Linked DNA regions of Homo sapiens. The protein of the gene in region 5 interacts with the protein of the main gene of each other region in a pairwise test. Each region holds a gene or a part of one and is shown on either strand. Other genes may lie near its edges. The genes, in order: LEPR, STAM2, ANGPTL6, CTSB, XRN1, HEATR1 and EXOSC10.

Evidence for each region.
Region 1: the proteins of XRN1 (region 5) and LEPR interact in a two-hybrid assay, tested with the Homo sapiens proteins (one large-scale study listed by BioGRID).
Region 2: the proteins of XRN1 (region 5) and STAM2 interact in a two-hybrid assay, tested with the Homo sapiens proteins (one large-scale study listed by BioGRID and IntAct).
Region 3: the proteins of XRN1 (region 5) and ANGPTL6 interact in a two-hybrid assay, tested with the Homo sapiens proteins (one large-scale study listed by BioGRID).
Region 4: the proteins of XRN1 (region 5) and CTSB interact in a two-hybrid assay, tested with the Homo sapiens proteins (one large-scale study listed by BioGRID).
Region 6: the proteins of XRN1 (region 5) and HEATR1 interact in a two-hybrid assay, tested with the Homo sapiens proteins (one large-scale study listed by BioGRID and IntAct).
Region 7: the proteins of XRN1 (region 5) and EXOSC10 interact in a two-hybrid assay, tested with the Homo sapiens proteins (one large-scale study listed by BioGRID).

The regions. Positions count from the first base shown.
Region 1 is NC_000001.11:65,598,668-65,602,167, reverse strand, and holds part of LEPR (leptin receptor isoform 1 precursor), read right to left. Parts: coding exon 3,364-3,500; intron 777-3,363; coding exon 486-776; intron 326-485; coding exon 208-325; intron 1-207. UniProt on the Homo sapiens protein: Receptor for hormone LEP/leptin. On ligand binding, mediates LEP central and peripheral effects through the activation of different signaling pathways such as JAK2/STAT3 and MAPK cascade/FOS.
Region 2 is NC_000002.12:152,116,764-152,120,263, forward strand, and holds the end of STAM2 (signal transducing adapter molecule 2), read right to left. Parts: 3' UTR 38-3,500; downstream 1-37.
Region 3 is NC_000019.10:10,092,679-10,096,178, forward strand, and holds part of ANGPTL6 (angiopoietin-related protein 6 precursor), read right to left. Parts: coding exon 3,304-3,500; intron 2,261-3,303; coding exon 2,080-2,260; intron 1,203-2,079; coding exon 1,015-1,202; intron 942-1,014; coding exon 671-941; intron 566-670; exon of another isoform or gene 102-565; coding exon 1-101. UniProt on the Homo sapiens protein: May play a role in the wound healing process. May promote epidermal proliferation, remodeling and regeneration. May promote the chemotactic activity of endothelial cells and induce neovascularization.
Region 4 is NC_000008.11:11,844,088-11,847,587, forward strand, and holds part of CTSB (cathepsin B isoform 1 preproprotein), read right to left. Parts: intron 3,082-3,500; coding exon 2,965-3,081; intron 1,703-2,964; coding exon 1,574-1,702; intron 1,136-1,573; coding exon 1,038-1,135; 3' UTR 1-1,037. UniProt on the Homo sapiens protein: Thiol protease which is believed to participate in intracellular degradation and turnover of proteins. Cleaves matrix extracellular phosphoglycoprotein MEPE. Involved in the solubilization of cross-linked TG/thyroglobulin in the thyroid follicle lumen.
Region 5 is NC_000003.12:142,417,038-142,420,537, forward strand, and holds part of XRN1 (5'-3' exoribonuclease 1), read right to left. Parts: intron 1,845-3,500; coding exon 1,778-1,844; intron 1,573-1,777; coding exon 1,467-1,572; coding exon of another isoform or gene 1,433-1,466; exon of another isoform or gene 804-1,432; intron 193-803; coding exon 103-192; intron 1-102. UniProt on the Homo sapiens protein: Major 5'-3' exoribonuclease involved in mRNA decay. Required for the 5'-3'-processing of the G4 tetraplex-containing DNA and RNA substrates. The kinetic of hydrolysis is faster for G4 RNA tetraplex than for G4 DNA tetraplex and monomeric RNA tetraplex.
Region 6 is NC_000001.11:236,552,517-236,556,016, reverse strand, and holds part of HEATR1 (HEAT repeat-containing protein 1), read left to right. Parts: intron 1-77; coding exon 78-212; intron 213-361; coding exon 362-466; intron 467-552; coding exon 553-721; intron 722-1,264; coding exon 1,265-1,419; intron 1,420-2,277; coding exon 2,278-2,436; intron 2,437-3,035; exon of another isoform or gene 3,036-3,500. UniProt on the Homo sapiens protein: Ribosome biogenesis factor; required for recruitment of Myc to nucleoli. Involved in nucleolar processing of pre-18S ribosomal RNA. Required for optimal pre-ribosomal RNA transcription by RNA polymerase I.
Region 7 is NC_000001.11:11,089,870-11,093,369, forward strand, and holds part of EXOSC10 (exosome complex component 10), read right to left. Parts: intron 1,729-3,500; coding exon 1,624-1,728; intron 1,311-1,623; coding exon 1,145-1,310; intron 800-1,144; coding exon 685-799; intron 1-684. UniProt on the Homo sapiens protein: Catalytic component of the RNA exosome complex which has 3'->5' exoribonuclease activity and participates in a multitude of cellular RNA processing and degradation events.

The DNA.
Region 1 (3,500 bases), on a different chromosome or scaffold from region 5:
ACAAATTACAATTTTTTAATCTCAGGTGTGAATATTTTTCAAGAATCACCAATTTATATAATCCCTCAAAAATTTCCTGATTCATTATATTATACTTTCCTCTTTCAGGAAGCAAATAATCTGTAAGACTACTGTTGTAATATTTCTAAAGAAAATTTTTATCTCACTGTGCCCACAGAAAAACAAAACAGCAAAAATAATACGTACCTATGATACCTCAATTGCAAAGTGCTTTCCGCAAGTGACTGGATTGTACTGGTTGACCATCTGCAAGTCATTTTAGTTAAGTACCCATCAGTTTCACATGAGATATTGATATTGACATCTATTTGAAACATATTAAAATATTAATATAAAGCAAAAACTCCAAAAAATTCAATGAAAAAAATTTTTTCTTACATCTTTAACAGGACTCTAATATAAGGAGGGTCCATAATGAAAATTCAAGTTGTGGAACAAAATGAACAAAACCTCTGTTTTCTTACCAATCACATATAATTCAGCATAGCGATGATGGCATTCATGTTCATTGCAGCAGTACACTGCATCATAGGTAAACTTTCCTCGAGGTTTGGTTTCATTCAGATTGAAAAAAGTAACTTTGCTAACATGATCACTCACAACATCATACTGGCTTTGAGGAATTTTCTCAGCTAAATTCATCCACCAAACAATCTCTTTTGAGGGAACAATCTTGTTTTCCTTCTTATAGATGCAGTGAAAAGAAACATTAGACCCAACACTTGTCAGAATTTTAGGTGGAAAGTATATGACATCTGTAATGAGGGAAGAAAGGATATCAGATGAAGACAAAACATTCTGTAAGTAATTTGTACCACATCGAAAAATATTCACAACACATTCCAGAGTTACACTGCCAAAAATAAAATGAGTGTAATTTAAAAACTGGATAATGCTGAAATTACCTGTTTGTGTACAGTTATCTAGTGTCCCGAGTGCTCTCATTCTAAAGTGAGTTGAGCTTCCATGAATGTCTTTACTATCTTCTAAACACAGAGGCTTATTCATCATAAAATATGTTTTAGCCAGTAATTGTCACTTGCTAACTGATAGGCAGGAAAGTGACTAAAACAAAATATAGCTTAATTCAACAATGACATATTTTCCAACAGACCCTGCTTTGGGAATCAGTGAAACTAGGACAAGTTCTTAAAGCAAATCACTATGAAGCCAAATCCTGAAGTAAAAATGATTGCCGCTATTGTCTTGTTTGGATACATAAAAATTTCAAGTAAGTAGGTAAAGATACGAGATATAAATTAAAAAATAGGAATGTCGTATGAATGATAATGCAGCAATATACAAAGCAGAGAAAATGGGAAATACTGGTTTGTACTATCATTTTGAGTTATTTAATGCCAATATCCTATGGATGAGGGTAAAGGGAAGCGATATTTTCCTAAAACATGATTTTTTTAATGCCTACACATGATTCTATACTATTTTTAAAGTCCTCTGTTGTTGTAAATTTCATTTGCCTATCATTTTCAAAGACATGCGAGATACAAGTAAATGATGGTTTACATAGGAAGAAATTATTTCCACCACAGTGCACTGCAAAAACGTCAGTACATTTCAGTTGTAAAGTTAAGGTAAACCATTTTCTGTTGATAGACTATGAAAATTTGTTTTCACACATATCTTGGGATTACCCTTAAAAACAGAAACAAAAATACTTTAATTGGTTTTTATTAAGTTTTCTTTATTCTGTAATAGCATGGTAAACGTCAATGTCTATATATTTACAATTCATACAAAACATTTGTGTTTTGTATGTCCATAATCAAATAGAAACAGGAAAAAACTTAGTAGCATAAAATTACTGCACAGGAGCCAGACCATTAGATTTATGAGCGTGACTGAGTATAATCCTAGCCGAGGTGGCACTCAAGCTTCACTTGTACATTACTTACTGTGGACAAGTACCTAGTACATTAACCTATCTTAACCTACCTTCAGTATGCGCCACAACCTCCTTACTCAACTGCCTCAAAAGTCTCAGAATAATTCTTATTTAAAAATAAAAAATATAATTGAGTTTTCATGGATTAAGCTGAAGTTTTTCATTTTAAAGATGACAAGAAAATTCAAAGCATTTCACTTTGAAATCAAATACATATAGTAAGGCTTAACTGAGAAATAAGATTAAAGTCATAGTATTTTTACATGATTAGATGCTAAAATATTAGCTTAAAATAAGAAAACTAAGTTAATAAAAACCTGACAATTTGTGAAATTTACACTGGATAAATTTATTGAAATTGATATGAGATATTGAATATTTAATTTGCAAAATTTTAATAATATAGATACACATTTTATCTGCATATGACATACTATGCAATTTTTAATTTGCAGAATAAGAAAACAATAATGGTTTTCTTCACATGACCAATGTTAATTATTTCATTTCATTATTTAATTTTATATGGATATTTCATATCCATGTAAAACATCCCTATTTTACAGATAAGGAAATTAAGGCATAGAAAGGTTAAGAAACTTTCCAAATAAGTGGTGGAGCCAGAACTCCTATAAACTTCTGTTGGACTCCGAAGTCAATGTCTTAAACTACTATTGCTACTTGCCTTTTGACGAATCAATGCTTTTAAAATAGTAAGCAATCAACAAGTAAACTTGTTAAATGGATTGATATTTGCATGGTACCTGTTATCTCTGTACAGGCCATAATCAATCTCAGTAAGTCTGAACAAGAAAAATTTTGCCCTTTTGACAGATCGGACAACCAGCCAAAGGACTATTGTCTTTCTATAGTCCCAACTTTGCATGCAACAGGTCTAGGACCATTCCAAGCCTCTGGAGCCTCTATGCAAAACTTTGCGCATCAGCTGCATGAAGAAGCTGTGAATGAACTGTAGATGTTCCGATGCTAAAAATAACCTTTAAAATATGAACATTGGCACTGAAAACTCTCAAAAGCAAGCATCTGGAGTAAAAATAATTCATTTATTATATAATATAAAGTAAAATGTTAATATTTGAATTTTATGTCAAATAAATATGCTTGGTTTTAAAATGTAAATTAAGGAATTATCAATACAAATGGCTTTCTGAGTTTGTTAATTTGGAGCTGTTATATTAATTTTTTCTTTTTAATAGGAAAAGTGATCCTACAATATACTGCAATAGAAACACACAAGCCTAGAGGCTCTGACAGAATTTTAATTCACAAATTGGCCTGTTCAAAGTTTAAACAAGGAAGTTGATACTGTGTTCCTCCTTTCATTTTAAGGCCTCAAAATGTAAGATGCTTATACTATACAAAGGCAAGTTCAGGAAATATATTTCCCTCCCAGTAGAAGTGGCTATTACATAACCTACCTTGTGTGGTAAAGACACGAGGAGTACTCCAGTCACTCCAGATTCCTGGGCCATCCAGTCTCTTGCCCCTCACCTGAACCTCATACGAAGACCCAGGAAGTATACTGTCTACTAGCAGGGATGTAGCTGAGACAATC
Region 2 (3,500 bases), on a different chromosome or scaffold from region 5:
CAAAAATATTAAATGCAAAATTACAGATAACAATACATACATTTTAAATAACTTTTATTAGAGTATATTGTTACAACTCTTTCATCTTATTAGTTCTGCTGTTAAGTGCCAAATTCATAAACTTTATCATAGGGATATGTATGCATAGGAAAACAAACAGTATATATAAGGTTCAGTACTATCTGCGGTTTCAGGCATCCACTGGGGATCTTGCAAATGTATCCACCACAGATAAGGGCGGGGGTGAGGGGTGGCTACTGTTAAGTCACATTGTGACATTCCAGGTGTACATGAAATTTGGAGGGACACTATTCACTATATCACACAAGCAACATAATGCCTCTTTTGACACAGTAAGATTTTAAAAAAAAGACTCTCAAACTTTAATTCAGCTTGATAAAATTAGAATTCTTCTTCTGGGGAATTTTCTTTTTGAGACAGGATCTCATTCTGTCAGGCCGGAGTGCAGTGGCGTGATCACACCTCACTGCAGCCTCAAGCAATACTCCCACCTCAGCCTACTGACTAGCTGGGACTACAGGTGCACTACCACACCTGGCTAAGTTTTAAAATTTTTGTAGAGATAGGGTCTTGCCATGTTGCCAGGTTGGTCTCAAACTCCTAGCCTCAAGCAATACTCCTATCTCAGGCTCCCAAAGTGCTGGGATTATAGGCATGAGCCACTGTATCTGGCCTCTGGGGAAAACTTTTAGAAATATACTTTTAATTTTTGAAAGAAAATTAAACCAAACAAAAATCAAATCCCTAAAACTGAGTATTCCCATTTACTAACTGGCTAAAACTGATGATGAAAGAAGAAAAAGTACCTTCCGATAGAAATAAAGCATTATAGATCAGTGCTATTTATAATTTATTACTTATCAAAGTAACTCCAGCTTTCTTATAGCAATTCAATAAGCCCTCTCCTAGAACTCAGGGGCTTTTAAATTTATGTTTTTACTAAGAAAACCTTTTTAAAAAAAATCCCTAAGCTATATGTTTTTAAAACATTTAAAATTGATTTTTTAAATTTTGAAAGTGAAATTATAACCATCTTCAAAACATACAGTAAAATGTATTACGTAGACAAGTATCAATTATTTCAAACAGCATGACAATTTAACTACAAATAATTTCAAATCCTAACAAATATAATTACCTAATGTTTAAGTAATTTTATAAATAAATTACCAAATTAGAAGACAGTATTGGTTGACTACATTTTACAAACTATAAGAATATATCCCACACTTCATATATTTTAACACCCTGGGGTATTTTTCTGCATTAATAAAATTCATTCTATTATAAATTTTCAGGAATTCTTTCTGATGTACCAAGATTTCATATGAAAAAGCAGAAGCTATTTTTTTATTTCTGATATAAAACAGTAAGTATGAACCCAATGTAGAAATCTGAAGTTAGACAATTCCCTTTGGCAGAAAACAATTATAAACAGGTCTTAATATAAATAGAATCCATAAGCCCATAAAAAGGGAAGTACACAACCCTGTGTTTCTTAACACCGAAAGAATCATCAGTACACAGATTTAAAATCATTTTTATCTCTCGACAGCCTGCAACACAAAATTACATATGGCAAAAAATAATTTTTAACTTGAGAAAGAAAAAAACTTCTGCACATATAAACTTTCACCGATGTGCCAATATATACTATATATTTATATATATATATATGTGTCATGTTTTATTATTCTAAAACTACATTATTTATAATGGCTGATCCCAATTTAGTGGGTGTGCAGTAATTATATTGGCTCAAAGACATGCTGAATTAAACTTTTATAATTGAGATCACAATTATACATGAAATACACAAACATTAAAATAAGTTTATTAAATAGAGTTTGGGAGAAAAAAAGTAAGAAATTCCATATATATGCAAATGTTGACTATTATCGAGAGCAGCTTTGGATTTTTTTTAAATGTTTTTTAAAAATTATTATTTTGTAAATAACAGAAGATTTGTTTCCAAAAAGTAAGGTGCCATTCAGAAGTATATAATTGAATTAACATAAAGGAAAATACTGAATAAAAAACAGAACATGAGATATTAAAGGTTAAAACTTTCTGTTCAGTTATTTGTATCTGAAGTTAAGACAATGACATAAACTGAGCTTTCAAATACTGCTAATTTTTCCACTTAAATGTAGATCAAGTACCATATAGACTATTTTGTTCTAGAATAAAGTTTCTTTGAAAAAGGAACATATTTATAATCAAATTTCTGTAGATAAATGGCAAAATTTTCAGAGAACTAGCTTGAAATGGATTTAGTAGAAAGAATGACTGCTTCCTTTAAAAAAACAAATATAGAAATCTTGCTTCCACGTAACTTTTTAAAAACTAATGTCCATTGTTTTTCCCAATCTGAATATGTTTCCATACATGTATGTATTTGCAATTTCTATTTTCCAATATGTAAAAAGTTGGTAGACAATGAAGTAGTGTGCAAATTTTTAGGAGAGAAAACAATCCCTACTGGTTTACTACCAAACTCTCACAGTTATATAGAATCTATTAGCACTATAAACTAACTCAAAATGCAGGCTTCAGAAAAACTGCTTCAATAGCCTCCCTATCAATCTGTCGCCTTCTATGAAGTCTTCACCTGCTATTATTCCACAGGCTGAGAATTACTTCTGAAAGAAATGGTCAATTTTTTCAACAGCTTGGTATGTTGACAGCTTAGCAACGGTACTTGAATCACCTCTTTAAAAAAACAACACACCACTAAAAACACACTTATCATCCATGCTTGGTATATCTCACAACAAATTATTAGGAATGTCTCATGGTTCAAATTCACACGCAATCCCATAAAAAGGATATGCAGCATCTCTGCACACCACATTGCAGGAAGAAAAACAAATGGACCATATCTTCATTAGAGAATAGCCAAAATCACTTGAAAAGGTTATTAGTGACAATTCTAAATACCAGAGATACATGTAGGAAAGAAAATGTTTTTCCTCAGGGAATGGAAATGTTTTGTGGGACATTCCTTCACAGTTGGCATGACTGTTTGGGGGACTGACTAAATGCTTTATCACACATCTGCATTTACAAGGTCTTCACTGTTAATCACAGAAAACATTTTTGTTCCTTCCAGATTGCTCTTGCTTCTGTAGACAATTATATGCTAATTATTATTCAACATAACAGTGAGAGCAAAAGTGACAATACTGCAAACACAACCGCAATTTAAGGAGCCAAAAAGAAATATGCTGGCAAGCTAAATGCTTACACACAAAAAAGTTAGACTTTTAAAGTGTGTGAGAAACTCTGAAAAAAATATTTCAAGTTCTTCAGTGCTCTTATGACATTTTAGGGGGAAACAGTGGTTTCTTTAAAATAATATTTTAATCCTCCTATCTCATACTGTTTATAAGTATGAGATACTTTTGACAAACTCACTCTGTCGATCATGCTACTGCACTCCAGCCTGGGTGACAGAGCGAGTTTGTCATAAGTATCTC
Region 3 (3,500 bases), on a different chromosome or scaffold from region 5:
GCGGCTTCGGTAGTGGCCGCCGTGGTGCCACACACCGTTGAGGTTGGAGTGGGCACAGGCATGGTACCACCAGCCTCCCCGCTGGTACAGGGCACAGTTACCTGAGGGGAGAGAGAGAGTCCATGTCCTCTCACCAGAATAAAAGCCTCTACCTGCACCTCACAGTGCAAGGCTTTTGCCAGGCATCCCCTGGCCCCTCCCATTCTTATTGAATACAAGCCCTGATCTTCCATCTCCTCAGCAAAAAAATAGGAGCCCTGGCCCCCCAACTTTCTTCAGAGTAATAGCCTTAATTCCTTCCCTATCTCCTTACCAAAGTACAAGTCACATCTTTCCCACCTTTTCTGCAAACTAGGAGTCTACCGTTCATTCCTTTATCAAAGAAAAGTATCTACTTCCTTTCTAGAATAAGAGTACTAGCTCTCACCCTCTGCCCTTTACTTGAACAGGAGTCTTGATTCTTTTTTTGCCTCATCAGAGAAGGAATCTGGACTCCCCATCCCCCCACCAGGATAAAAGTCCTGACCTTTGTTCTCTTGACGGAATAAAAGCTTGCTTATCCTTATACTTACCAGAGGGGCGTCTTACCTACCCTACCTCCTTTCATTCCCTCACCAGAACAGGAGTCCCGCCTCCCCTATCCTCTCACCAGAATAGGAGTTCTCCTTACCAGAATAGGAGTCTCGGTCCCTATCCACGGTGCTGAAGGGCTTGTCATTGTGCCAGGAAAGAGAGTCTCCAGCATCACCATGGTACTGGCCAAGCCGCAGGCGGTAGTGGTCGCTCTCGGGTTCCAGGGAGAAGCCATCATAGTGGGCACGTGCTCCACGGCCCCCCCAGTCCTCCAGGAGAACCAGCAGCTCATGGTCCCCACGGCTGGTCAGCTGATACACGGGTTCAAGGCCCAGCCAGTATTCTCCGTCTGGCCGCCCAAAGCCCGCCTGGCAGGGCAGGAAAGTCAGGAAGCCAGAACAGGCTCCCTCCCCTTCCCTGCCTCTGCCCACCTGTGCCCACCTTATAGTGCTGCCAGGTAGTGAAGAAGTTGACTGAACCATCTTGCCTCCGCTGGATCACAGTCCAGCCTCCACCCTCCAGTTGCTGCTCACACCATACTGACACTACGTGACGGCCCACTCGCAGTTCATACACTCCACTCTGTTCATGGCCTGCCTGGCGGGCCTCTGCACAATCCTGCCACGGGCCTGTGGGCACAGGGATAGGGGGGAGGCACAGCCTGGGCTGACCAATCCCTTACTGGAGCAAGAGTCAAGATTCTCACAGGTCCTCTCACCAGAATAAGAGTTCTGCCTCTCCCACTTTTCTACCAAAGAGTCCTGCCTCTCCCATTTCCTCACCAGAATAAGAGGCCTGCCTCTCCCATTTCCTCACCAGAATCCGAGCTCCAATAGCCATTTCTTTACCTAAGAATCTGGGTCCCTTGTCTCTAATCAAAGGAAATGTCAAGTCTGGGGTTCTTTTTTTTTTTGAGATGGAGTCTCGCTCTGTCACTCAGGCTGGAGTGCAGTGGTGCGATCTCGGCTCACTGCAACCTCATCCTCCCAGGTTCACGCCTTTCTCCTGCCTCAGCCTCCCGAGCAGCTGGGACTACAGGCGCCCGCCACCACGCCCAGCTAATTTTTTGTATTTTTAGTAGAAATGGGGTTTCACCGTGTTAGCCAGGATGGTCTTGATCTCCTGACCTCGTGATCCACCCGCCTCGGCCTCCCAAAGTGCTGGGATTACAGGCATGAGCCATCGCGCCCGGCCAACTCTGGGGTTCTTAAACCCTGGTTTTTTATGGTCTCCTCACCATAATATAAGTCCTGAATATGATACTCTGAACCAGTTCAAACTCTTACCAAAGTAGCAGTCCCAAACATCGCCTCACTAAAGTAAGAGTCCCTCCTCTTCTATTTCTTGTTTCTCCTATTTTCACACCTTAGAAGTTTGGTCTTATTTTTAATCAGAATAGGAGTATCATTTCTTCTGGTCTTCTCACAATGAGAGAAATCTGCCACTAAAATCCTGACTCCTCAATTTTCCTCTACCCACAATTCCTCAGCCCTAATGTCGACTTACCCACAGGCTTGGTGGGGACCGCAGGGTGACCTGCAGGCATGGGAGAAGCCATGGGCTCCTGCTGTCTCTGGGTCTGGTCTCTCTGGGGCTCTGGGGCTGGGTCCAGCATCCTACTGGTGTCACTGGTGCTACCCACAAGACGGACCGGAACCACAGGCACCAGTGGGGGTGGCGGCAGGACCTGGGGTGACGGAGAAAGTCAGGTGTAATTGCACTAACCCTCAGGCCAGGAGGCCTGGTCTCAGGGGCAGAAATGGTGGATAAATCTCCCAGCTCCCAAATGACCTGGACATCTGGCAGTGGGGGTGTCCCAGCCCTAGGAATGATCCTCCCCAAAAGCTAAACAACTTGGCTTTAAAGTGCAGACAGGCTGGGCGCTATGGCCCGTGCCTGTAATCCCAGCACTTTGGGAGGCCGAGGCGGGCGGATCACCTGAGGTCAGGAGTTCGAGACCAGCCTGACCAACATGGTGAAACCTCCGTCTCTACTAAAAATACAAAAAAAATTAACTGAGTGTGTTGGCTCACGCCTGTAATGCCAGCTACTCGGAAGGTTGAGGTAGGAGGATCGCTTGAACCTGGGAGGTGGAGGTTGCAGTGAGCCAAGATTGCACCACTGCACTCCAGCCTGGGAGACAGAGCGAGACTCCATCTCAAAAATAAAATTAAAAAAATAAAGTGCAGACAGAGCTGGGCTTAAATACCGGCTCTTGGTGCTCATGGTTTAATTGATCTGTGCCCCAGCCTCCTCTGTAGAGTAGGGATAATAACAACACATCCAACAGTATCTAACTTACTGACTCCTCTCACCAACCCTGTAACGTAGGGACTGTCACAGAGCAACATTCTCTTATCCCAAACCCAGACCAGGACACGTTCCAGAATTCAGAATAACACGGCTGGATTTAGACACAGTGACACAGGGAGGGTTATGTATATGCATGTGTGTATAGAATATACATAACACTCCTAAAGGGGTTTTTGGTCTTTACGTGATAATGATATGTTTAATTATAGGATCCTATGACTATTCACATTAAGTGGTTAAGTGAAGGCTATAAATAGCCACCAGTCACTTTTTGACCCAAATAAGTTACCAGAAGGGGCGAGTAGGAATCCGGTTTTCAGGGTTTTGCGGATTTCAGAACTGTGGATAAGAGATCGTGGGGTTGCAAAACCCCCATTTCACAGACGATGCTGCTCTCCGGGGAGGCTGCGAGGTTACCTGCTGCTGCCCGCCCGCGCCTCCCGGGCACAGGCGCTCCAGGCGGGCGATGAGACTGCTCTGCTGGGTGACGAGCTGCGCCAGCTCGCGGAACTTGACGTCCAGCTGGTGGAACCGGGCGGCTGCGCGCTGAGCCTCGGCGGACGCGTTGAGCACGCGCTCCCCGAGCAGCGCCAGCGCCGCGGCAGGCTCCGCCC
Region 4 (3,500 bases), on a different chromosome or scaffold from region 5:
GCAAGCTTACCAGGCACTTACAGAGAAGGTTGACGAGGATGACAGGGAACTAATTGGGGGAGGGATGCCATGGTTGAAAACATGGCTGGGGCAGCGAGAAGTTAAGATGAAGTCCCAAGAGTCGCAAGAACATGCAGTTCCAGGACGTGATTCTCTGCAGGGACAAAGAGAGACAGCAGCTACAAGTCTATAGGCAGTGACAAAGGATCTGAGATCCCATCAGAGTAGACTTCAAGTTGGAGAAAACTTTTATTGGCACAGGCATTCCTTGTTAACTTGACAGGGTGAAGCTGTAATTTTTCAAAAACAGTAAAAGCTGGTTTCTCCTAAACTATTTTCCTTGTGGTAGTAGAGATCAGTGGGTCAGAAACAACTCCTGACCACTTGGTTTCCTTTTGAGCCGCGTCATAAGGAGGCAATCTGTAAAACTAGCACAGGTCTCCCGCTGTTCCACTGGCTCACCCACATGATTAGCAGAGTGCACGAAAAAATAAAACTTCTATTAAAGAATCATGCTGAGCACAAGATCAGAGAGGTTGTGACATTGCAAACTCGATAGATGCAGGGGGCCTGGGAGACTGGCGTTCTCCAAAGGGCTCCCAACACCGTCTCTCCTCTGATTTCTGTGACAAATGTGGAAAGCTACTTGCTTGGAGGTACTGGGGGAACTGATGGGGGAACTTTCATCCTGTTAGGAACTCCGCTTTCCATTCCTGCGTCTCTGTCTTGCTCCCTGGAGATGGATGGATCACGGAGGGGGCCACAGTCAGCTGGGGCAGCAGGTACTCCCTACGGCACTAGTCTACAGGGGGAAGGACGCTCTGTGCTGGCAGCGGTGGCTCACATGGCCTGTCTGCACTGTAACCACAGGCTGGGATGTAGCCAGGACTTGGTCTCCTTGGAAGACAGGTCTGATGTTTGGCCAATCCAGTCCTTCAGACCCTGTCTGAAACTTGTATCTTACGTGAACTTAAAGAATAAAATGCATTTCTACCCCGATCTCGCCCCCAGGACTGGCACGACAGGCCCACGGCAGATTAGATCTTTTCCCAGTACTGATCGGTGCGTGGAATTCCAGCCACCACTTCTGATTCGATTCCACAGTGATCCTGTCCTCTGAGTATTTTAAAGAAGCCTGGGAATAAAAAGTAAGGTGCTTTTAAAGTGTGACAAGGGTCAACCAATATAGTCAGACTCATCCTTAAAAGACCTTAAGTCACTCATCCCTGGCCACTCCTGCTGTTGGCCCACTAGCACAGTCCTCAACACCACAAGGCTTCTGGAGCCGTGGGGCACACCTCCACGGGCAAGCCCCCTGCCCGGTCACCCTTCCCATCACAGGATCTGGCGCGATGCTGTGGGAACTGTTGCAGGCGTTGGCTCTGAAGCTGCTCAGAGTCTGCCCTCACAGCAAAAGGGAACTCCTGACTGCCTGGCACTTAGGAGGAGCTCACAGCCTGGCCGTAGGTCCAGGGTTTAAGGCTGTGCGGTGGGTAGAACAGAGAAAGCCGAGATGGCCACGGGGTGTGGCTCACAATTCACTGTTCTTGGCAGGAAGGGGGCAGCCACTCACCATTGTCACCCCAGTCAGTGTTCCAGGAGTTGGCAACCAGCCAGTAGGGTGTGCCATTCTCCACTCCCCAGCCCAGGATGCGGATGGCATGGCCACCCATCATCTCTCCGGTGACGTGTTGGTACACTCCTGAAAAGGGAAGAACTGGCTGAGACCGAGACCGGGCCACTGTCCCACGCCCCACAGCACCCCCCACACTCAGCTGGTCATGCTCCGGGAAGGAGAAACAGCTTCCAGAGGGAACCTGCTGCTCCACCAGGAGGCTCCAGGGGGGGTCCCACAATACTGGGGAATTAAATATATTTTTGAAGGCCCAACACACTCAAAGTTGTTGAGTAAATATTGAAATAGATTCCTACAAAATGTGCTTGTTGGCTTTAAAAATAGAATTTCTAATACATTCTAATTGATAAAACATTTAATGCTAGATGACTGATTCATCTGTTCTTTATACTGGGATTCCATGTAAGTAAGGGTTTGTCAAAAGCGTTACACGGCTTAAAGAGTTTTAATAGCTGCTCCAGGTACACCCTGAAGAGGTGAGGGAGGAGAAGGGAGGACTGGTGGCAGCTAATGCTAGCTGATGGGAAAGATACTGGCTAAGGGGCTCAGGGCTGCCCAACCAGGCTCTCGGGTGGGGAAATCACTGTCAAAGTGGAAATGCATCTTTTAATAATAAGGGCGAGGACTATGCTAAGAAGTGCCATCTTCACAGAAACTTTTTCTTGCCAGAATCATCTTCCTTTGTCAAACTGTTGTTTTACAAGTTTCCAATCTAGCAAAATATTAATGGGATAGATGCAGTCAGCAAAGACTGTTCATCTGGAGCAAGGGATTTCTAAGACAGGACTTGGGGATGGGGACTGTCCAGATTCCTTGGTTGGAGTCCCTATGGCACTACCCAGGGCAAGGTCCTCCCTGTGTGTTCATCCACTGGTGTGAGGCACGATCTAGGCCTTTGCAAAGAGAAAGATGAAGAAAATGTGTCAGCCAGTGCAAACACGAACGGCCTGCCATTATAACAGAAACATGCTGGTAAAGCAATGCAAAGCCAGGAAGGCGAGGGCAGGCGTGGCCAGCCACCAGGGAGGGGGGCGTTCCCACAGAGAACATGTATGAGCTGGACGCTAATGGATGGGAAGGAACTAGCCCAGAGGCTCTGGGAGAGGCCTCTGGAATTGTGTGTGTTGGCACAACACCTGGACAAAGACAGTCAGGTGCCAGGCTGGTCCACAGAGGAGTGAGCCTATATGGAAGGCCCCACACAGCCCTCTTCCCCAGCCCCTCACCTGCCTGCCCAATCCAGCCCTATTGGTCAACATGAACCATCCTGGCACCCAGGCTCCCCTCCCGACCCCCACCCTCTATTGCCATCAGCCATCAGCACGCACCTGACTTGTAGAGCAGGAAGTCCGAATACACAGAGAAAGCTCCCTCCACGGGGCCGTTTTTGTAGATCTCGGCCATGATGTCCTTCTCGCTATTGGAGACGCTGTAGGAATTGTATCCTGGAAAATGAACCGAGCTCGGGGTTGGGGAGGGCAGTGACCGTGCCTCGTGGCACGCCACGGTCAGCCAGTCACTGATTTCTGGTGGCCTCCAGGGGAAGACTGCATCTAAGGGGACTTGCCCTGCCAGGGGAGCTCAAGGAAGGCTCCCCTGAAGAACTAAGGACAGGGCTGGGGCTGGAAGCTCAGAAATGGGAGAACGGAGCAATGAGCACGAGGCCCCGGAAGAGGCCAGGATACCTCAAGACTCCAGGACACGCCACTCCCTTGTAAAAGGAGGGCTTTGGTCCCTTCCAGTTTGGAAGGGCTGAGGCTGAGTTCAGGGTGGAACAGGCAGAAAGTGGAGAGTGTGCTGCTTCTCCTGGCAAGAGGGCATCACTCCCCCTCCTCTATCCTAGAGTTCCGGGACCCCAAGGCTC
Region 5 (3,500 bases):
TTACCATAAGTAGAAATAAAAGGAAGTGCTTCCTAAATAAGACTCTAGTAGAATGAATCATTATAAAAAGACAAAACTTTATTTTTGTTTTTATTCTCTCACCAGCTCCAGGACTGAACTCCATGATAGTAATAGTGCAAAATCCACTGTATTGCCTGAACATAACATGCAGCTTGATCAGCCAGAAAGTCACTGAAAATAGAATATTTTCATTATAACATATTTTCTGAAGACAGGCCCGTGTCTTTAGAGCACGGTATCTGCTGATACAACATTTTACCTCAGATGATTTATTTAATCAATGAATTAGCTATTTATGGCTAAAAATTATAATCCTAAAAACTCCAAAATATTTTTAAAAATTACATCCTGTCACATGACAGTTTTCCTAAACCAACTATCAAAATAGATAAGTCTGTTATTCATATTTACTCAGTTAATGTACCACTCCCTTGGTCCAAAGGTTGAAGATTTACCCAATGAAGCTTTCCATAGTGACACTACCACTCTCTTAAATAGTGGGGGTGAGACGGGAGAAAGGGATGGGAATCTTCTTTACATGGGATGATATCTGAGAGAAGCAAAGCAGCAAATCAGGAAGATCTTAAAATTTGGTCACAGAAGCTAGAATGCTTTCAGAAGTGCTGTATGTGAACAATATTCCTTCTAATCCTTTCTTTGTCAAAAACCAAATGCCATCTTCTAAGTTTGGGTAAAATAAGTCTTCAAATCATCAAAACAAAACAAAACAGAGCCCTGGGCTAAAGGCAAAAATATTCACTTAGAAATTACATAACTACATATTTCTGGGAGGTAGTTTTTTAATATGAAAAATATTGCTTTTTTATTATAAAAGAACTATTTCCTCAGGAGTGAAAATCTGGACAATGAAGAACAGCATTTTTATCATCTTATAGCCATCACTTTTACATTTTTAGTGTTTCAGTCTTTTATCTATATCTAGGTTTTTTTAAGGTTAATGAGAGCATACTGTATGTATGATTTCATGTCTTGCCTTTACAATTTGTACTTAATAATGTACTATAAGCATCCTTCCAAATTGTTATGAACTTTCTGCAAGTACCAGTTTAGCAGTTCTGCAGATTCCGGAGATGGAAGAGGTGACAGAGATGGTGACTGTAATGAAGAAGCAGTGGCCAATTATGATGAACCTTCTTATTGGACATTTAGATTATTTCTAATTTTTTTACTATTATAAACAACTTTGTAACAAAAATCCTTATACATAAGGATCATTTTCTCTTCAGCAATTTTTATCACAGGAATATAATACAAGTCAGAATTAATACCATCTTCTCCAAAACCAGACTAGTTGAAACATACACAATAATTCATGAAACCAAAAAATCCTTTTTCTCCCACTACTTCATCAAAATCATATTTTCTGAATAACTGCAAAATCTAATTTTTTCTATTTTAAAATAAAAGCATTGGCAAAAACGTACTCAGATACTACGTCAACCCCCATCTTCGTCATGTAATATGTTCTTTTATATTGTCTAAACTCAGTTTCAAATAGGTCATCATCTTCAGTCTCATCTTCTAAATTATCTGGGGAAAAAAGTCAGAAAGATAGTGACTGACAATTATGAATAGCCTGTTTTTCCACCTAATGATTTGATAAATGCATATCCAAGTTGATGCTTATATGCTATCACAGAAATCTGTTCCACCCAAAATTAGTAATAATAAATAAAAGGTATAACAATTATCCTGTCAAAGTAGTAACATATCAAAACACATACTTCATACTTACCCTTAGAAGTTATCATTTCGCCTTCATTTTTGTCTAAAGCAGTCCAACACAGAGAATTTTCCTGGCCCTGTAAATTGTAAATCAACATAAAATGAATGGCAAGATACATTTCAAAATGAGATGTCATTTCTCTTCCATGCACCCATTTGCTTTTCTATAGTTCTTCCATGTTATAACATCCTTCATATCCTGCCCATCTGTTTTTCCTCCCTTGTGATCTCAATCCTTTCTCTCCTCTATTCTCTGATTTCCTGTCTACTGCCAATGACTCTCTTTAGTTCTTCCTACTCCCTTATCCCCATTTCCTTTCTTTCATCCAACTTATGGCCTCTACCAACTTCCTGTGTCTGGGCTATTCCTGCACAGTGTCTCTAAAGTTAGCTGCATATGGCTGGAAGACTGGTGAAGTTTAAGTACTGAATTGTGGTGGGGGAGCCAGGGATTACTGACAGGTAAGTTTTGTGTGTACAGGTTCCCAAAAAGTTGCAGAGCCCGTTTTCTTAGGGGGGGAAAAAAAAAGACACACACACACACACAAAAACCAGTGGAATGCAGACTGACTGCTGCCAAGTTCCAGTGAGGAAGAGCTAAGCAGCGAGAAGGACTACACTAGAGAAAACAAGGACAGTTGCCCCTCCTGGAGCAAGAGTCATTAAGTTTGAACCTAAATAGAACCAGTACAGCAAGGAGAGTAAGAAGCTCAACAGAATCTTGGCCGGGCACGGTGGCTCACGCCTGTAATCCCAGGACTTAAGGGAGGCCAAGGTGGGCAGATCACGAGGTCAGGAGTTCGAGACCAGCATTACCAACATAGTGAAACCCCGTCTCTACTAAAAATACAAAAATTAGCTGGGTGGTGGCGCGCACCTCTAATCCCAGGTACTCAGGAGGCTGAGGCAGGGGAATTCAAGCGAACCCAGGAGGTAGAGGTTGCAGTGAGCCAAGATCGCGCCACTGCACTCCAGCCTGAGTGACAGAGTGACATGCTGTCTCCAAAAAAAAAAAAAAGAAACTCAGCAGAATCCAATAATTACAGAGAGGCTGAAGAATTTTTCACAAGAGGTTTACTTTTCAAGTTAACACAAGACATTCTTTGGAGATTATCAGAGATGCTCTGCAGGGTACTATCATATTCTAATTGATTCTATTATTCATTTATTAAGCACATAACATTTACTAGATATTGTGCTATTAGGCTGGCACAAAAGTAATTGTGGTTTTTGCCATTACTATTAACTTAGACTATTGTATTTTATATGTAAATCATTTCTAGAGAAAAATCACTGATCTAGTTAATGTCTCATATCATTAAACACTATAAATATCCACATTTTAAAAACTAGTCCATTGTTTTAAAATAACAATTTTTTTTTAATTAAAAAAAAATTGCCAGGGGAAAGTGTGAATGCAGTCCTCCACTACCATAAGTCACGCAGTTCAGTTTCCCACATTTGGCGAAATCGCAGGGCATCAGCACATCCAGAGTGCAATGGATAAACCTCGCCCTGGGAAAACTACCTTCATGATCATGGTATCCTCCCTGTCAGGTTTTAAATAATTGTTTTTCTTTTTTATGAGACAGAGTCTCACTCTATCAGCCAGGCTGGAGTGCAGTGGCTCAGTCTTGGCTCACTGCAACCTCTGTCTCCCAGGTTCAAGTGATTCTCGTGCCTCAGCCTCCCAAGTAGCTGGGATTACAGGTGTGTGCCACCACATCCAACTA
Region 6 (3,500 bases), on a different chromosome or scaffold from region 5:
TAGTTTTTAAAAATACACACCGCTGAACTCTAGGAATCATTTGAAAATGGCACATCTCTTTCCTGTGTTATTGGTAGAATCACATGGGTCCGTTTATGAGCATCTTGCAAGAGCATATTGGGGTGATGAAGAAGGAAGAGCTCACCTCCCATCAGTCTCAGCTAACCGCCTTTTTCCTGGAAGCCCTGGACTTCCGAGCCCAGCACTCTGAGGTAAGCTCAGGTTCACTCCTCCAAATCCTAAAGCTGTTATCCACCTATTGAAGAGTCCGAGAACAATCTAGCCGTGTAACAGTGGTACTTGCCAAAATAATTTACAGTCAGGTATCAGCACTCTAATAAATGGGCTCTTCTGTTTTCAGAACGATCTGGAGGAAGTTGGAAAAACGGAAAATTGTATCATTGACTGTCTAGTAGCCATGGTTGTCAAACTTTCCGAGGTCACATTCAGGCCCCTGTTCTTCAAGGTGACGCTTTCTTCCTCTTCCTCTCTTTTGTGCTCAGATTTAAGTGACAAGATGTCGAAGAAACTAATACTGTCTTATCCTTTCAGCTGTTTGATTGGGCTAAAACAGAAGATGCCCCAAAGGACAGGTTGTTGACATTTTACAACTTGGCAGATTGCATTGCTGAAAAGCTGAAAGGGCTTTTTACTCTGTTTGCCGGCCACTTAGTGAAGCCTTTTGCTGACACCTTGAACCAGGTGAACATCTCCAAAACAGGTGGGTGGTCGCTTCAGTTCAGCTGTCACCCTTGCCCTGTGTGCCTTATACAAGGTACCAGTAAGACACAACCTAGTGCTTGGAAGCAAGATTTTAGAGGTTCTTAAGTCCTAAGCTAAGGAGGGTGAATTTTTTACTTCATTGTTGTCAGACAGTGAAGTGTTGTTTTAGCATCATGAGCGAATGTTATAAGTCACCTCACTTGGGAGAAAGAATAAAGTAAATGGCCGTTACTGTCAGTTACTGGAAGTAACTTTAAAACGCAAAAATTAAGATTAGTTTATTCTCTAATGCTAATACGTGACCCACTTGACAGTTGAGGGAATTTAACTTGCCAGAGTGAGTGTTAGAATCTTAACTCTAAAAGAAGGAATCATTCTTCGAGAGACCATCCATTGTGTTCTGCCTTCGTCCTGATTATGATTTCTAGATCATTTTAGACTCTTCTGATTTAGTTATTTTAATAGTGATTTCAATGTAAACATTGGAGATTAAATGGTTAAGTTCAGTGTTTTTTCATTTTTACTCTTCCCACGTCTACAGATGAAGCATTTTTTGACTCTGAAAATGACCCTGAAAAGTGCTGCTTGCTGTTGCAGTTTATTTTGAACTGTTTATACAAAATCTTCCTTTTTGATACCCAGCATTTTATAAGTAAAGAGAGAGCAGAAGCCTTGATGATGCCTCTGGTGGATCAGGTAACCAAACAGAATCATCTTTCGTTGCTGAGGAAGCCATCACTGTTCGAGCTTGGCAGGTTTTAGATCTGCTCAAATGACAGCTTGCTAGGATTTTTCTTTGTAAGGTTGTTTTTTCTGGTCTTTTTAATGAAATGTTTTATTTGAAAATTGTTTTTTCAAAGATATAACTTCATTGTGGAATTTGAGTTTTGTTTTGTTGTTTTGAGACAGGGTCTTGCTCTGTCACCCAGGCTGGAGTGCAGTGGTGCAATCTCGGCTCGCTGCAACCTCCACCTCCCGGTTTCAAGCAATTCTTGTGCCTCAGCCTCCCGAATAGCTGGGATCACAGGCGCCCGCCTCCACACCTGGCTAATTTTTGTATTTTTAGTAGGGATGAGGTTTTGCCATGTTGGCCAGGCTGGTCTCGAACTCCTGACCTCAAGTGATCCACCCACCTTGGCCTCCCAAACTGCTGGGATTACAGGCGTGAGCCACCATGCCTGGCCCTGAGTTATTTTTTATTTTTTATTTTTTAAACTGCTCAAAAGACAGACATGATATAAGCTGTCATGGTTAATGTATTCATTTGTTTTAACTGGGCCTCACTGAGAACGCGTCAGAGCATGGCTGTCCTCTGGAGCAAAGAGCTCCTCTGAGATGTTCTGCTGGAGAGAAAGGGGCGATGATAAAGGGTATGAGATTCCATTTGAGTTCTAGAAGGCAATACATTTGCCCTAGAGAGTATTAGAATAATGCCTGGTTTTTGAACCTGCTAATATCATGAAAGATAGTAAAATATTTGTATGTTGGATATTTTTTCAAACAGAAGAAAGAAATGAGACTTGTTGTTCAAAGTCTTTGTCTTACTCTTCCTAGCTGGAAAACAGGCTTGGGGGAGAAGAGAAATTCCAGGAACGGGTGACAAAGCACCTGATACCATGCATCGCACAGTTTTCGGTGGCCATGGCGGATGACTCTCTTTGGAAACCACTGAACTACCAGATTCTGCTAAAGACGAGAGACTCCTCGCCTAAGGTTAGGAACTGCGTGACAAGTACTGAAACTGCATCTTTTCACTGCATAGCCTAAACAGCCTGCAGGTGGTCACAGATGTAGGCCCCCTAGTAAACTGGCAGGGAAGAACATTGCTATTTGTCATCCAGTACTAGAGGTCCGGTCTTTTGTATTAGGCAGAAATTTGTGCCTAAGAAAATTTTGTTTTTTACTTACAGGCTATTTGTAAAGAATAGCAATGCCCTATCCCCACCCCAATGGTGCGTTGGGCAGAAGTACTAAAATACTTTCTAAATACTTTTAAATAACAAAGATTTGAAGTAATTCCTTCTTTTTTAAGTGCCATTGAAATGTCATTGTGCTCCAGAGAGAAATGCATTGAATTTATCCACACTATAGTCTTTTGAGTTAGAGCAATACATTCTGTTGTTTATAGATACTAGGCTTATGATCTTGTTGAGTAAGTGGTGGCAGTGGAAATAAAACATGGGTAGGTTGAGTGGAAGTCAAAATTTGACACCCAAGTGTTACGAATTTCAAACTGTTTTAGCAATGAGTCACCATTTCTCAAACTAATGATTGTATTAGAACTTTACTGGCTATAACAGACCAAAGCAGAATTTTATTAATAGGATTTATTAGTTCAAATTCTTTATTAGGATATGCTAACAATGAGACTATTATGATGAACCCCCACATTTTAAACCATAGGTTTTTATACAAGTAGCAGTATCAAATTTATTGTAATATTTTACTTTGCACAAATCAAGGAAATCCTGATTGAATCTAGGTAGTTACAAATGGTTTTTTAATAATTCACTTTGTACTGTCCAGATATTCTTTAATTAAAATATCCAAAATTAGAAGACCAGTAGGGCTTTTGTTTCAAAAGCTAACAATACCCAACTACTGCTTGCTTTCCTTATTATAGACAAGGCATGTGAGGAACACCTAGACGTTTTTAAAGCCCCAAAACTAGGATATTGTGACACAGAATGTTTTTTATTCAGTGCTGAGATGGGAGTTTATCCCAAGCGACTGTCCTGGCCCCTCATACAATTATAGTGGTGACCAGTCAGGGGCTG
Region 7 (3,500 bases), on a different chromosome or scaffold from region 5:
GGAGGTAAAGGCTGTAGTGAGCTGTGTTCATGCCACCACACTCCAGTCTGGGCGACAGAGCAAGACCCTGTCTCAAAGAAGTTCCAACTCTACAAGAAGCCTGCATCTCTAATTTTGCTTTTACATCTTTTTTTTTTTTTTTTTTTGAGATGGAGTCTTACTCTATCACTCAGGCTGGAGTGCAGTGACGCCATCTTGGCTCACTGCAACCTCCACCTCCCAAGTTCAAGCGATTCTCCTGCCTCAGCCTCCCGAGTAGCTGGGATTACAGGCACACACCACCTCGCCTGGCTAATTTTTGTATTTTCAGTAGAGATGGGGTTTCACCATGTTGGCCAGGCTGGTCTCGAACTCCTGACCTCAGGTGATCCACCGGTCTCAGCCTCCCAAAGTGCTGGGATTACAGGCGTAAGCCACCGCGCCCAGCCTTCGTGTTTTACATCTATAAAATGGGAATAAGAGCAACTGCTACTTCTCAGGACTGCAGTGAGGTTTACATGAGGCAATGCTGTGTAGGCCCTTTGTGAACACAAACAGCAGGTTTTATTGCTAAGGCCCAGGTTGGGGTGTAAGGAGGAAATCACTACTCCTCAGATTGTTTTCATGTATATACTCCACAAAAGTGAAAATGTGGCAAAAAGGTAAGTACTCACGGCAGAAAGTCAGACACAGGCCAACACTTACATGTCTTGCTCAACCTGCTGGGTTCTCTGCTGATGGATGAAATCAGCCAGTGCAGGGGGGACGTCCAAGTCCTCAGGACGATCCTGTGGGCGTTCCCGCCTTTCCTTAGAGAGAGCTGGGGATCCCAGCAGTGACAAAAACATCATTAGCACATTCATGTCTTTTCTAATTACACAGGGGTAAACTGGTTCCCTTTGTTTTTTGGCTTTTTTTTTTGAGACAGGGTCATGTTCTGTCCCCCAGGCTGAAGTGTGGTGGCACAAGCACAGCTCACTGTAGCCTTGACCTCCTGGGCTCAAGTGATCCTCCCACTTCAGCCTCTGGAATAGCTGAACTGGGCTCCCTTTGAACAAAGGAGGGTGGGCTCCCTTTGAACAAAGAAGAGAGACCTGTACACCCTTCCTGGTTTTTGCATCAAATAAAGTGAGACTCAAACACAGGCAAAGTATGCACTATTTACCTTGAGGGAGAGGTTTCTGAGCATTGGGTTTGATGAAGATTTTAGGAAGAAATGGTGTGTTGGAATTGTCAATCTTCTCTCGAAACTTGAGCTGAGGTCGGATGATATTTTTTGCATGAAGCAGCCGGAAAGTTTCAGATTTTGCTTTTTTGCCATATTCTGCTGCCTATGATCAATGAATACAAATACTTTATAACACAGCAACTTGATGAATTAGAAAAGTAAATTCCAATTTATGACTTCTGAGGAGACAAGAACATCGCAAAGGTCATTCATTCATTTAAGAATGTATGTGCATGTAGAGGTCTCCAGAAAGAGAAGAAGAGGGTGTAATTAGTTTGTGTATGTTTATGAGAACAAACTAAAGGAGACAGTGGCCAGTTCTCTAATAAATTAGAACAGAAATGCATGTTAGAATGAGCAAAATCTCTGTTATGAAGCTGACATCAAGAGCTCTAGTTAATCTGAAAAGCCCTCACCTTACGGTTCCAGCTGGACACTACCGTTTTGGGGACCTGCAAGCCGGCAGGGAGGACAGGCTGTTGATTCTTGTTTACACCTGAGGCTTCATCCAGTAAAATACCCTAAGAGTAGAAGAGGTACTGGTTAAGCATTTTTCCTTTTGAGGTTAGCAGAGTTAACTACCTAACATTTTATTTATTTAACATGGAGTATCACTCTGTCACCCAGGCTGGAGTGCAGTGGCGCAATCTTGCCTCACTGCAACTCTTTACAGTTCTGAATTGGGCTCACTGCAACCTCTGCCTCCAGGGTTCAAGCGATTCTCCTGCCTCAGCCTCCCGAGTAGCTGGGATTACAGGTGTGCACCACCATACCTGGCTAATTTTTTATTTTTAGTAGAGATGGGGTTTCACCCGGTTGGCCAGGCTGGTCTCGAACTCCTGACCTCAAGTGATCCGCCCACCTGAGCCTCCCAAAATGCTGGGATTATAGGCGTGAGCCACCGTGCCCCACCTAATTACCTAACATTTTAAAGAGATTGGTATTCAGAGACATTTGTGTAAGAAAATATACATATATAAGAACAGATCAATGTATGTATCAAAACATCAAGTTGTATGTAATAAATATATAGATGGTCCCCAATGTATGACAGTTTGACTTGTAAGTTTTTGAGTTTACAATGATGTGAAAGTGATTTGCATTTAGTAGAATCCATATTTCAAGTACACTTACCACCTGTTTTTCTTTTTTCTTTTTTGAGACAGAGTCTTGCTCTGTTGCCAGGCTGAAGTGTAATGGCGTGATCTCAGCTAATTGCAACCTGCCTCCCGGGTTCAAGCGATTCTCCTGCCTCAGCCTCCCAAGTAATTGGGACTACAGGCATGCACCACCACGCCCAGCTAATTTTTGTATTTTTAGTAGAGACAGGGTTTCACCAGGTTGGCCAGGATGGTCTCGATCTCTTGACCTTGTGAGCTGCCTGCCTCGACCTCCCAAAGTGCTAGGATTACAGGCGTAAGCCACTGTGCCTGGCCCTGTTTTTCTTTTTTTTTTTTTTGAGAGGGAGTCTCACTCTGTTGCCCAGGCTGGAGTGCAGTGGTCCAATCTCAGCTTGCTGCAGTCTTCGCCTCCTGGGTTCAAGCAATTCTCATGCCTCAGCCTCCCGAGTATCTGGGACTACAGGTGCACGCCACCACGCCCAGCTAATTTTTGTATTTTTTAGTAGAGATGGGGTTTCACTATGTTGACCAAGCTGGTCTTGAACTCTTGACCTCAAGTGATCCACCTGCCTTGGCCTCCCAAAATGCTAGGATTACAGGCATGAGCTACTGTGCCCGGCCACAACCTGTTTTTCACTTTCAGAAGTGTATTCAATGCTACTTGAATTACATGAGATGAATATTCAACACTGTATTATAAAAATAGGCTTTGTGTAAGATTTTGCCCAACTGTAGACTAATGGAAGTTTTCTGAGCACATTTAAAGCAGGTTCAGTTAAGCTATTTGGTAAGTGAGGTGTATTAAATGCATTTTTGACTTATAATATAGGTTTATTGAGACATAACCATGTAAATGATCGCCTATACAATTTTTGTCAATAAAAAAATAAAAATTTTACAAAGTTGATCAATAAAGGTCATTAGTATGTCATGCCAAGTAATTAATGCATTATTTGCTCAAAGGCAGGTAGGACAGTAATTACCCATGCCCAATACTCGATTGACTCTTTAAAGCTCTGAATTGGGCTGAAAATTCTAATATGATTTAACAGTGTAATGTGGCCACTAAAATAACTAAGAAGTCCCTGGACTGCATACATTAAATATAGAAGTACACTATTTAGAATGAAACTGCAGGGAGTCCTCATCTATTTTGCACTTTAAAGCAGACG